Regions from separate parts of the Homo sapiens genome. Here all the other regions are reported to be linked to region 1. The links are microRNA targets in miRTarBase. Many come from high-throughput screens and were not tested one by one. Region 1 holds a microRNA gene; each other region holds the end of a gene's coding sequence. Distances are between the middles of the regions.
Evidence for each region. Region 1 holds the annotated microRNA hsa-miR-4448 (GGCUCCUUGGUCUAGGGGUA, at 2,150-2,169, shown strand). A microRNA usually pairs through its seed, bases 2 to 8, with sites in the 3' UTR of a target mRNA and lowers its output. Matches are read on the target gene's strand: a 7mer-m8 pairs with bases 2 to 8, a 7mer-A1 pairs with bases 2 to 7 and ends in A, and an 8mer does both.

Region 2: the mRNA of STXBP4 is a reported target of hsa-miR-4448. The part of its 3' UTR that is shown has no 7-base or 8-base seed match.
Region 3: miRTarBase lists PRRC2C as a target of hsa-miR-4448. Seed matches in the 3' UTR shown: 7mer-A1 at 490-496.
Region 4: miRTarBase lists SEMA3G as a target of hsa-miR-4448. Seed matches in the 3' UTR shown: 7mer-A1 at 2,394-2,400.

The regions. Positions count from the first base shown.
Region 1 is chr3:183,884,711-183,887,830 of GRCh38, forward strand. It overlaps MIR4448 (microRNA 4448), which reads left to right and starts at 2,090; the gene lies at 2,090-2,175. It overlaps PARL (presenilin associated rhomboid like), which reads right to left and starts at 170. Exons shown (of 10, transcript NM_018622.7): 1 at 12-170. The coding sequence starts at 136. It also overlaps the pseudogene RPSAP31. RefSeq lists silencers at 1-89, 200-350 and enhancers at 300-349, 390-619.
Region 2 is chr17:55,159,432-55,162,551 of GRCh38, reverse strand. STXBP4 (syntaxin binding protein 4) reads right to left here. Exons shown (of 18, transcript NM_178509.6): 18 at 1-2,755. The coding sequence ends at 2,641. Among named protein-coding and RNA genes, the nearest start is that of HLF, 100 kb to the left of the region's middle.
Region 3 is chr1:171,591,496-171,594,615 of GRCh38, forward strand. It overlaps PRRC2C (proline rich coiled-coil 2C), which reads left to right. Exons shown (of 35, transcript NM_001387844.1): 35 at 92-2,016. The coding sequence ends at 352. Among named protein-coding and RNA genes, the nearest start is that of MYOCOS, 29 kb to the right of the region's middle.
Region 4 is chr3:52,432,898-52,436,017 of GRCh38, reverse strand. SEMA3G (semaphorin 3G) reads left to right here. Exons shown (of 16, transcript NM_020163.3): 16 at 1-2,983. The coding sequence ends at 415. Among named protein-coding and RNA genes, the nearest start is that of SEMA3G, 11 kb to the left of the region's middle.

The DNA.
Region 1 (3,120 bases):
GCGGCTATTACCTGCGTCCGAGGAGCTGCGGCGGGGTTAGGACCGCAGTGAGCTCCTCGCAGCTGCGGCCGCCCACCGACGCACCCCACGCCTGGCCGCAGCCCCAGCCTCTCTGCGCCCAGCCTCGCCACGCCATCTTCCCAACCTCTGCCCCACCATGGCCCGACCTTACCAACCCCAGCTGCGCAACTACTTCCGGGGCGAAGGCAACACCATAGAGCACGAGGAGCAGTCTAGAGCGCCCCCGCGCGGCTGAGCGGCAGCCGAACCAGCCACGGTGCCCGGACGACTGGCTGGCGCCCTTCTGTCCCACCGCTTCCCCTCCCACTGCTCAGCTGGCTCCGGGAGCGACCTGCGAGAGTGGCCCGGCCTCCCGGCATTTGCAGATGAGGAGGATGGGGCCAGAGCGAAGAGGGACAACTGTCATTTTTTCGAGTAACGGCACATACCAGGCGCTTTGCCTAAGATCGCATTTAATCGTCACAGCACTGCTAGAGGTAGATGTCATCACTGTTTCACTTTGCCTCTGGTCAGAGGGGATAGGACTTGCCCGGAGTTGCAGGGCTGGTCCCTAGAGGAACCAACGTGGCAAGCCAAGTTTTCTTAAATTACTACTTTTTTCTGCATCTCACCACTTCGTGTTATTCTGTATGCCTTTAACAAAGTCCAAGCCTATCGGGCGGGGTGGCTCACCCCTTTAATCCCAGCACTTTGGGAGGCCGAGGCCGGCGGATCACCTGAGGTCAGGAGTTCGATACCAGCCCGGCCAACATGGTGAAACCCCGTCTCTACTAAAAATACAAAAATTAGCCGGGCATGGTGGCAGGGGCCTGTAATCCCAGCTACTCAGTTGGCTGAGGCAGGAGTATTGCTTGAACCTGGGAGGCGGAGGTTGCAGTGAGCCGAGATTGGACCACTGCACTCCAGCCTAGGTGACAGAGCGAGATCCGTCTCAAAAAAATTACAAATACAAATACAAAAATTAGCTGGGCGTGGTGGCGCAAACCTGTAATCCCAGCTACTCGAGAGGCTGAGGTGGGAGAATCACTTGAACTCGGGAGGTTGCAGTGAGCCGATATCGTGCCAGCCTGGGCAACAGAGTGAGACCCTTTCTCATAAATAAATAAGTAAATAAACACAAAATCCAAGCCTGAAATGAAAAGCGGGCTTTCACTTTTTCATAATCCATCCCTCAACTACCTGTCAGTTAGCTTGATTCCCTGCCATTCCATTCCCCCCGACCCTAGCTGCAGCCATACAGTCATTGGCCATTACTCAAAGGCACCATCCGCGTTCCCACTGCTGAGCATTCATGCTACCGTTCTCACCACTTGAAACATCTAACCGACTTGTCCTTCAGGTCAGCCTCAAGTGTCACCTCTTCCAGGAGGCCTTTCCCAGACCTCCACTCCAATTTAGATTCCCTTCCTTTGTACTCACATACCGCTTTATGCTTATCTCTGCAATAGCACTTCATTCATTCCATAAGCTCTTATTAAGCACCTACAGTGTGTCAGGTGATATGTTAAACCTGGGGATACAATTGAGAAGACACTATATCTGACCTCACAAAGATTCTATTGTATTGGGGGAGAAGGCTCTGTAGGAGTCTAGAGAGGGGGGATATAGCCCAATTGAAGGAAGGGGCATGGGAGGCTCAGGGAGAAGGCTTCCCAGAGAAACTGATAGAGGTCACCAAGAGAAGAGGATTGAAGTGTTCCTCAGAAAGAATAGCATTTGTGATGTCTCCCAGCGCACGACTTGTTTGAAAAACTAAAATAAATTCACGCCTTTTCCACACAACCCAGAGAGGGGCCCATACGGCATTGTTCTAGATTCTCTGTGGGCGGCAAGCCATCCAGGTGCCGAGGCAAGAGACCAAGGGCACGAGCTGTTCCAGTATAATAAAATATATAAAACAACAAGAGTTATACTAGATCTAGATCATAGACGTGATTATATATGAATATCATTAATCATCAGTTTGTAGCAATTATTCTTTATTCCAATATTATAATAATCCTCGCTCTATAATCATAACCTAGGAAAAACCGGGCCATACAGAGGCAGGAGCTGAGGGGACATAGTGAGGAGTGACCAAAAGACAAGAGTGCGAGCCTTCTATTATGCCCAGACAGGGCCACCAGAGGGCTCCTTGGTCTAGGGGTAATGCCAGCGTCTGGGAAGATGCCCGTTGCCAAGCAGACTGTGGTCTAGCGGTAGCATGTCAAGGAAAAACACCTGCTACTTAGTAGTCCCTGGGGGAGTTTAGAGAAGACTCTACTCCTCCACCTCTTGTGGAGGGCCTGACATTAGTCAGGCTTTCCCGCAGTTATCCGGAGGCCTAACCGTCTCCCTGTGATGCTGTGCTTCAGTGGTCACGCTCCTAGTCTGCCTTCGTGTTCCATCCTGTACACCTGGCTCTGCCTTCTAGATAGCAGTAGCAAATTAGTGAAAGTACTAAAAGTCTCTCATAATGGTGTAAGTTGTTTCTCTCTTTGTCTCCTCTCTCTCTCTGCCTCGGCTGCCAGGCAGGGAAGGGCCCCCGTCCAGTGGACACGTGACCCACGTGGCCTTACCTATCATTGGAGATGGCTCACTCTCCTTATCCTGCCCCTTTGTCTTGTATCCAATAAATATCAGTGCAGCCTGGCATTTGGGGCCACTACCGGTCTCCGTGTCTTGGTGGTAGTGGTCCCCCGGGCACAGCTGTCTTTTCTTTTATCTCTTTGTCTTGTGTCTTTATTTCTACGCTCTCTCGTCTCTGCATGTGGGGAGAGACCCACCGACCCTGTGGGGCTGGTCCCTACAATTCTCATTGTAACTTAAAGGGAAACTTTCACAATGTCTAGAGCCCTTGATGTCCTGCAAATGAAGGAGGAGGATGTCCTTAAGTTCCTTGCAGCAGGAACCCACTTAGGTGGTACCAACCTTGACTTCCAAATGGAGTAGCACATCTGTAAGAAGAAAAGTGATGGCGTCTACATCCTACATCTGAAGAGGACCTGGGAGAAGCAAGAAGTTTCTGCTGGCAGCTCGTGCCATCGCTGCCTTTAAAAACCCTGTTGATGTCAGTGTCATGTCCTCTAGCAATACTGGCCAGAGGGCTGTGCTGAAGTT
Region 2 (3,120 bases), not on the chromosome of region 1:
CCCAGGAAATGATTAGCAATTGTTCTACTTCACCACAGTGTTTAGCACAGTGCTTGTGACATTGTTGGTGCTCAATAAATATTTTGAGGGAATGAGTGAGTAAGGATGAGTCAACTTGGGCACTCTAGTAAAGTGAGACGGAAGGACATAAGAACATTCAGATTTTCTAACCCTAAAATCCAAGCCAGTGAGTCAATGAAGACTTCGTGATGACCACATTGCTACGGTTGATTGATGTTAAAGAAAGACTGGCTACTCGCCAAAACATAATATGAGGGTCGTATTTGCACTGGAAAAGGATTCTTGCTAAGCCCTGACCATGCTTTTTTGAGCATCTCTTATGGCACCGACCTGATGGTTTAGAAGTCACGGAAGCTTTATGAAGAGGGAATCTGAGAGAGTGGCCAACTGGTTCAGTCCATTCACACACTGAACCTCCTCAGCAACATTCCCCAAGTAAGGAATTCAGATTGCTGGGATAGTGTTTCCATTTTCTCCTGGGGAATTCTTTTCTTATCAGCTCTAATTACTAGAAAGTTCCTTATGACACTGAACTAGAATCTGCCTTTTTATAAAATGTACCCATAGACAATGAATCTAAGCAGTTCTCCATAGTGGTTTAGAGAACAGCTTCTGGAATCACAGATCTGCCTTGAACCCTAGCTTCTACACATAGGTGCTTTGTGACCCTTAGGCAAAGATTACTAACTCTCTAAAACTAAGTTTTTTCTTTTAGAATTGGGGATAATTACAGTTCCTATTTCATGGAATGGTTTTAAGAAGATCATAAATAAATATATGCAAACTGCTCATCACCATGTATGGCACAAAATGCCCAATAAATAATATCATTACAATTGTTTAGGCCTTTTTCACTAGGTATTTGACAGAAACAGGGCGGCAAGTGGTACAAAACAGCAGTTAATGGATGAGGTGTCTCTTGTCAGTGGGCTGTGTGCCTGAGTACTTTGATTTCAGTGACTCAAGCACCTTCTTTGTTTTGCTCACTAGAAACGAATTAGAAAACTCTTCAAGCAGGGGGAGAGAAATTTCATACCATTAATTTGACAAAAACAAGAAGTTTGTACTTTCACAATTATAGACACTAACTTATAGAATACCTCATTCACCTCTGGGGGGTGCAAGGAAATAGCTCCCTCTGGGGCTTCTCTCAAAACTTGTCTCCCCGAAGCTTCCTAACATTCAAATGGCTGTCAGGCAAAACACAAGTCTTCCCTAGCCATCCTGAAACATTTCTCATGGCTAATGACTACCTATCAGTCTGGAGTTGACTTTATATTATTACTCAAGACATAAATCACAAATCCTAAATGGATTCAGGAATGTATAGTTGAGCACAATGTATATGTATATCTTTACCATATAAATCTGTATTATACACCATATGAAATTCAGTAGACTAGGAGACTTAAGATCTCAGTTTACTCAACTATAAAATGGCTACAATGAATGGTTCTTAGACTATGTTCTAAGGACCTCTAGGTCTGCACAGCAGTGCTGGGAGCTGCTCGACTTGGGCTTTAGGCTTCCATCTTGTTTCGAGTAGAGCAGTAATGTTTTAACAGATACCTCTCTTCTCATCAGCTCCCCTCAAACCATCCCTCTGGGAAGGGCAACCTAAGCAGGACAAACCATGCCTTTCACTTTAGAAAAACACGAGCTGCTGAAAGAAGTCTGCTGAAACAATATCACAAAGAGTGCGCCTACTTGGCGAAGGCTTGGGTGCAGAGAAGGGGGAAGGGTTTATAGGAGAAGAATAGTGGGGTTATAGAGGGGCCATGTTTGACCGAAGAGGTGCCTTCTGAATCTCTGTGGAATGCACAGCTGTGGAGCCAGCTGCATCAACACAATCACAGTGTCCTGCGTGATGGGCTGTGACCTCCCTCCGTGGAGACAGCAGGGTATGGGGGAAGGGGGACTGCTCATGGAATCAGAAGACTTAGGAGTGAGTCTCGGTGCTGGGACAGAGAGCTTCCTCTCTCTGAACTGCTATTTCCCTACTGAAAACCAAGAATAAACATACCCACCAGATCAGCTTCACGGGCATGTTGTATGGTTTAAAGACAATGGGGTCTACAAAGCATTTTGTAAATTAGAAAGCTCCACAAAGATACCAGCTGTATTCATCAGCCCATGAGATGTCTAAATGTGATCCTTAAATTCCAAAAAGCTTGCTAAGTTCACTTTCCTAATATATGAATATAAAACATTAGTGAATTATCAAATAAATGAGGTGTTTCATTATGTTCATATACTTTTTCAATATGTCAATTATAAAAACCATTGTATCTGAGACCCTATGAAGAACTACATATGAAATTACAAAGAAAGATCTAATTATATATGAAAAAGTATATATATTATAAAGTCTAATTATATGTGATTTCAAAAAATATAACTAGATTATTCTTAAGGAACTACTGTAGTGGCAATTGATTTTTTAAATGTATACAGAAATATCAAAAGTTTTACAAAAATACCCAAAGTCCAGAGTCTCCATTTCACACTTCAACAAGTAGTGCATGCTTTACTCCTATTTTAGACTGTTTCATCTCAGAATTGGATGTTATGCGTCTCTGCTCACATCATCCATGTAGCTCCACTTCCTAAGGAAAACCATCAACTTTTCTGGTTGGGGAGTTCTCTAGAGCAATCCTCTTCATTCTCCTCTGAGCGAGATAGATTCAGGACACTCATCACGGGATGGATCCAGGATGTAGTCTGTGTTACATGACTTGAGAAGAACAAGAATGCAATTAGAATCTGAAAGACTGTCCTTCTACTCATCCATGCAAGTACTGATCCTGGTGACATTGCTTCTACCCTAGTAAAGTCCCTGTGATAGGAAGCAGTTAGAACTAGATCCAATAGCTTTAATAAGTCTTAGACACATTTTAAGCTTCAATGAAAACCATTTCTTTCTTTCTTCTTTGGTTAAAAAGGAATGCAGGTGAATGCAGCATCTCTAACTCCTTTCGTTTCAGTATCTGACATTCAGTAAGTCAGCAAGTCCAATGACTGCCTTGCTGTAACATCTCTGGAATCTGTTTCTTGCTCTCCTTTTTCAATGAAATAGTCTGGGTCACTGAAATGGTTTGC
Region 3 (3,120 bases), not on the chromosome of region 1:
TTGTGATTGGTAAAAGAATTTGAACCAAGATTGATTTGACAGGCTTTGGTAATGCTGCAGTATTTTCAGTTGTTCTTTCTCATTTTTTAAGGCAAAGCAGAGAGCAGAGGTTCTTCAGTCCACGCAACGGTTCTTCTCTGAACAGCAACAGAGCAAACAGATAGGAGGAGGCAAAGCCCAGAAAGTGGACAGTGATTCAAGTAAACCTCCTGAAACACTGACCGACCCTCCTGGGGTCTGTCAGGAAAAAGTAGAAGAAAAGCCACCCCCTGCACCCTCCATAGCCACCAAACCTGTTAGAACTGGACCAATCAAACCTCAGGCGATCAAAACCGAAGAAACAAAATCTTAAAGGCTATGGTTTATTGCAGGGGATTGGGAGGGGGGCGGGAAAACATGGAGAATTAAGTCAGATAATGCTGGCAGCCAAAGGGGCAAAATGGCCTGTGACATTATCCTGTTCAGAGCTTGGAGATGTACAAGGGACATAGGAGCAATTTACACTGACACACAGCTGCTGTACCAGTGAAAACGAGGCTTTGCAAGCTTGTACCTACTATATAACATGTGCTTGGTTGATGGCCATGCATCTTCAGTCAGAATTTATATATAAATGTATGCACCCATTTTTTTGAGTGCATATAATTTAGACCTAAAAATCCTTATGATTAGATGAAACACCAAAAATATAAGGAAAATAACACAGCAGAGGAATAGCTCAGCCTGAACAGTGTGATGGTCCCAGCTACTACATCAGATGCGGTTTTTTTGCTCCCTTATGTTCTTCGGATATGGTTATGGCATTTGTAGGCTTGGAGGTAAAGAACTGAAGATAACTGGTGCTGGATAGAGGAGCCTTATTTTTTATTATGGCAGCTTGCTATTTTTATAACATGGTGATTGAGTTGAACACAATCAAAGTACAGTAGTAACTGATGTCCCCTTCTTCCTGGATGAATGAGCAGATAAATATTGATGTCAGCATCCTTGAACCATATCAAAGTGAGCAGTGTTTGGCTACTGCTTCTATTTGAAATGGTGCTGTGTTTTGGTTGTGGTCTGAAGCTTTGAAGCGCTACTTAGCATCTCCTTTCTTCCATGGAGCTCTCACGATTCAAACATGACAGATTTGGTAAAATGCTGGTTAGGTTGAGTCTTCCTTGCCCCCACTCAGTCATCTTTGTATGAATCCCATGATTTGGGGGTTTTTTTCTTTTTTTTTTTATACCAGTTTTTAGCTGGTGTTTATGAAGAACAGTGAGTACCTAGAACTGTGCCACTAATTAAAGGAAATCCTAAGAAGGTGCATTTCTTTACAGAGCTGTGTCATGCCATCCTTTGGGCCCTCTGCTGGAAAAGTAGAATCAAGTCTCAAATAATGCCTTTTTAATTGTATCCTCTAGTATTATAGATATAGGACAGTACTGTATCATACCTCTGTGAATGTAAAATATCTTGTACCTGCTTTATGATACGTAGTAGTGACCGTGCTTTATCAGAGCTGTTTTTAATGATGTTATTCTAGAATGTTTTCTTTCCAGATGATGATTCAGAAGCTAATTTTAAAAAACGGTGCCAGGTACCACAACAGTAACAGAACTTTGCAATTTTCTGGGGTTTTGTTTTTTACCTTTTTCCCCCCTTTTTTTTAAATGGAGTGTGCTGGATGTCTCTATAATTTTATTCAGATGACTGCAGAACCTGGAAAAGCTGTTGCTGCTATTGATGCATAACATACTGCTATTGGTCTTTTTATATAAATATATATATATATATACATATATATATATAATTTGAATTTTTGGAAACTTTAGCTGTGCTGTCAACTTTGGAAAAAGTATCCCGGTTTACTGTGTTGAGTTGGCATTGTACAGAAATTAACAGCCATATTGGTCTAGAAACGTTAAACTTAATTTTTTTCCATTTGTACAGGGGTAACGCACTGTATTAAATATGTAAGGTCTTATCTACATGGGTTTGATTACAGAAACTAATAAAGTATTCTCTAAATAATGATTCTTGGAGCTTATAATCATTTCCTAAAATCTGAAGCAAGAGGGTTTGTCATGTATTAAAAATAGTGGTCAAGAGTACTGGCCAGTCGCAGTGGCTCATGCCTGTAATCCTAGCACTTTGGGAGGCCGAGGCGGGTGAATTGCCTGAGCTCAGGAGTACGAGACCAGCCTGGGCAACATGGTGAAACCCCATCTCTACTAAAAATACAAAAAAAAAGTACATTATACAGCCGGGAGCAATGGCTCATGCCTGTAATCCTAACACTTTGGGAGGCCAAGGGAGGTGGATCACCTGAGGTCAGGAGTTTGAGACCAGCCTGGCCAGCATGGCAAAACCCTGTCTCTACTAAAAATACAAAAATTAGCTGGCCTGGTGGCAGGTGCCTATAATCCCAGCTACTTGGGAAGCTGAGGCAGGAGAATTGCTTGAACCTGGGGCGGGAGTCAGAGGTTGCAATGAGCCAACATCAAGCCACTTCACTCCAGCCTGGGCAAAAGAGTGAAACTCCGTCTTAAAAAAAAAAAAAAAAAATTACATTATACTCTAGAAAAGGATTATCATCCAAAGCCTTGACTTCTCACTTTGAAGAACTCTGGAGATCATTCAACTAAAGTAACTATTGTCATGGCAGATAGTCATGGCCCCTGTTCTGAAGTAGCCAAACTCATATTGAAAACAAATCTGTCAGCCGGGCGTGGTGGCTCATGCCTATAATCCCAGCACTTTGGGAGGCTGAGGTGGGCGGATCACCTGAGGTCAGGAGTTCGAGACCAGCCTGGCCAACATGGTGAAGCCCTGTCTCTACTAAAAATACGAAAATAAGCTGTGCGTGGTGGTGCATGCCTGTAGTCCCAGCTACTTGTGAGGCCGAAGCAGGAGATGTCAAGGAGTAAAATTCTCTTGATGCACAGTGCCAGATGTAGAAGAGTTTCACCATCTTTTGGTCAGAAGCTGAAGGACCAAAAATAGATCTCAGTATTATTTATGTTTGTATTTTTCATAGCTTTGTTAGCATGTTCATGAACATCACCTGCCCTAAAAGGCTATAGGGCATTTATTCTATCATTTACTCAATTTATGAAATGAAATACTGAGGGATTGTAA
Region 4 (3,120 bases), 130 Mb from region 1:
TAGCCGTTTCGATGCGGGCACCTACACCTGCACCACTCTGGAGCATGGCTTCTCCCAGACTGTGGTCCGCCTGGCTCTGGTGGTGATTGTGGCCTCACAGCTGGACAACCTGTTCCCTCCGGAGCCAAAGCCAGAGGAGCCCCCAGCCCGGGGAGGCCTGGCTTCCACCCCACCCAAGGCCTGGTACAAGGACATCCTGCAGCTCATTGGCTTCGCCAACCTGCCCCGGGTGGATGAGTACTGTGAGCGCGTGTGGTGCAGGGGCACCACGGAATGCTCAGGCTGCTTCCGGAGCCGGAGCCGGGGCAAGCAGGCCAGGGGCAAGAGCTGGGCAGGGCTGGAGCTAGGCAAGAAGATGAAGAGCCGGGTGCATGCCGAGCACAATCGGACGCCCCGGGAGGTGGAGGCCACGTAGAAGGGGGCAGAGGAGGGGTGGTCAGGATGGGCTGGGGGGCCCACTAGCAGCCCCCAGCATCTCCCACCCACCCAGCTAGGGCAGAGGGGTCAGGATGTCTGTTTGCCTCTTAGAGACAGGTGTCTCTGCCCCCACACCGCTACTGGGGTCTAATGGAGGGGCTGGGTTCTTGAAGCCTGTTCCCTGCCCTTCTCTGTGCTCTTAGACCCAGCTGGAGCCAGCACCCTCTGGCTGCTGGCAGCCCCAAGGGATCTGCCATTTGTTCTCAGAGATGGCCTGGCTTCCGCAACACATTTCCGGGTGTGCCCAGAGGCAAGAGGGTTGGGTGGTTCTTTCCCAGCCTACAGAACAATGGCCATTCTGAGTGACCCTCAGAGTGGGTGTGTGGGTGCGTCTAGGGGGTATCCCGGTAGGGGGCCTGCAGGGAGCCAGAGGGTGGAAATGGCCTCTAAGCTAGCACCCCGTAAGAAGAGCCTACCTGACCGACTTGGGGAGGGAACACAGAGGTGTTGGGAAGGTGGAGCAACAATGCACCTCCCCTCCTGTCGCGCCGTGATATCTTGGTGGCTCCCTGCCACTGCCCACCGCCTCTTCTCCATCTGAGAATCACGGAGAGGTGTAGATAATCTAGAGGCATAGACTGCTAGAGCCCCCAGGGATCTGGGGTGGTCAGGGCTCAGGCTTCACTTTGTAAACCAGGTGGGGGCATCTCACAGCCTGACTTCCCTTCCCCAGGCCAGGGTTGCTGGGATGCCTGCCCCTCCTGAGAGGACCCCCTCCCCATTGTCAGGCTCTCCATGTCCACGAGCGGGGAGGGGTGGGTTCTGGGGCATTGTTGTCCCTTGTGTCTGTGGACTAGAGATAGGGTGGGGGAGCTGGGGAAGGGTGCAGGCGGGAAGAGTGGGCTGTCTTTCCCAGGGTGATGCAAGCATGCCGCAGCCCTGGAGGCTGGGAATGTGGAGGCTCTGTGAGCCCTGCAGCCCTCAGAATCAGGGCCAGGGATGCAGAAGATTGAGAGGATATGGAGATGGATAGAGGGCAGGAGACCCTTAGGATAGATTGTGGGACCCAGGCAGGAACAGGTGTCCACAAGAACTCAGGATGGCATCAGTTAGCTCAGAAGCCACCTGGAAGACCCAGTGTTTCCATCTCTGGAATCTCTGTTTTATGCTAAATGGATTTAGGAAGACTGTTTTTCTTTTAAGGGGGAAACAAGGTAGAGAAAAGGACGAAGAAGTGTAAGTCCCGCTGATTCTCGGGGGTAAGGCTCGGATGGCAAGGACGCGTTCTGCCTGGGCATGTAGGGGAGGTGTTTTTGCCATCACCAGTTTCTCAGGCTGGGGAGCACAGAGGGGAGGAGGAGGACTAAATGAAAAGTTGTTCCCAGCCTGCACATGAACACATTCATGACACACAAAACTGGCTGGAAGGAGATAAGAGCACTGGGTTTGAGATTCCCTCCATTAAAACAACCAAGACAAAGAAAGGAGGGGAAAAAAAGATAAAAAGCAAGCCAGGGTTCCCTGCCCTATTGAAACTCAAACCCAGACTGCCTTGGGTTTTATCTTTCCCTTACCCCTGGCACCTCCAGAGAACTGGGACCTGAAATAGTCCCTCCGTTCTCCCCTTTGACCATGTAATAAATGAACCAGAAGCACTGAGATTAACCTATCAACGCCCTGAGAAGCCTTCCAGCCTGCGGTGCTGTCTGCTGGGAGGTCAGCTGGTCAAGGCAGAGGAGGAGAGGAGGAAAGGATGGGGGCTGAAGAGCAGAAGGGAGGGGAGACAGAGGGGATTAAAGAGGGGAGGAGAGAGTGCAGAGCTCCAGGAAAGGGTATCAGAGCTGCAGCCAGCTCTGCCCTCTACCCTAGGGAGGCCAGAAAGACACAAACAGCCCTCCGGGCCTTTACGCTGGACTCTGGCTTGGCAGGCTCCAGGCAGGGTCCTCTGGGAAGTTACTCTAGAAAACGAAGGGAGGAGGAGCACAAGATCCTCAGCAACGAACACCTGCACTTAGAAAAAGTGGACAGCTTCTGCCAACCACACCCTACCCATGGTACTGTATGCTATTAACTCCTGGAAACGCCCCGTAAATGCGAGTTGTTTTTGTATTTGTGTGTTGAGATGGGCCTTGTGGTTTCTCTGTACTCAGAGCACATTTCTTGTAATTACTATTGTTATTTTTATTGTCATGACTGCCCCTGAGCTCTGGTGAGAAAAGCTGAATTTACAAGGAAAGGGATGAAGTTAATATTTGCATCACATAATTATATCATTACTGTGTATCTGTGTATTGTACTAAATGGACTGATGCTGCGCACATGAGCTGAAAATGAAGAGCCCTCCCATCCATTCCATGAGAAAGAAGGTCACCCTGAGTGACTTCTGTTTCATGATTTCCCAAACAGGTTTTAGAGCTGGAAAAGGACTTAAAGAAAGAGACTGGGTGGTGCTTTCTAGAAAGGAGGAAGATGGGTATCAGGGGAAGGAAGGAGTTAGAGGGCTTTGTACAAAGCCGAGATTGCTCATTAAATGAGGAACATCCTGGCCTGTGGGCTTGTAAGACTGACCTTCTTGGGACTTCAGGAGGATCTTGAACTAAAAGAAAAAAAAAAAACACTGGCAAAGGGCAGCTGGGCCCGTAGGCAGCTCTGCTCCTTTTTCACAACAACACTTGACATTTGTCACAGTGACACTTGGCATGG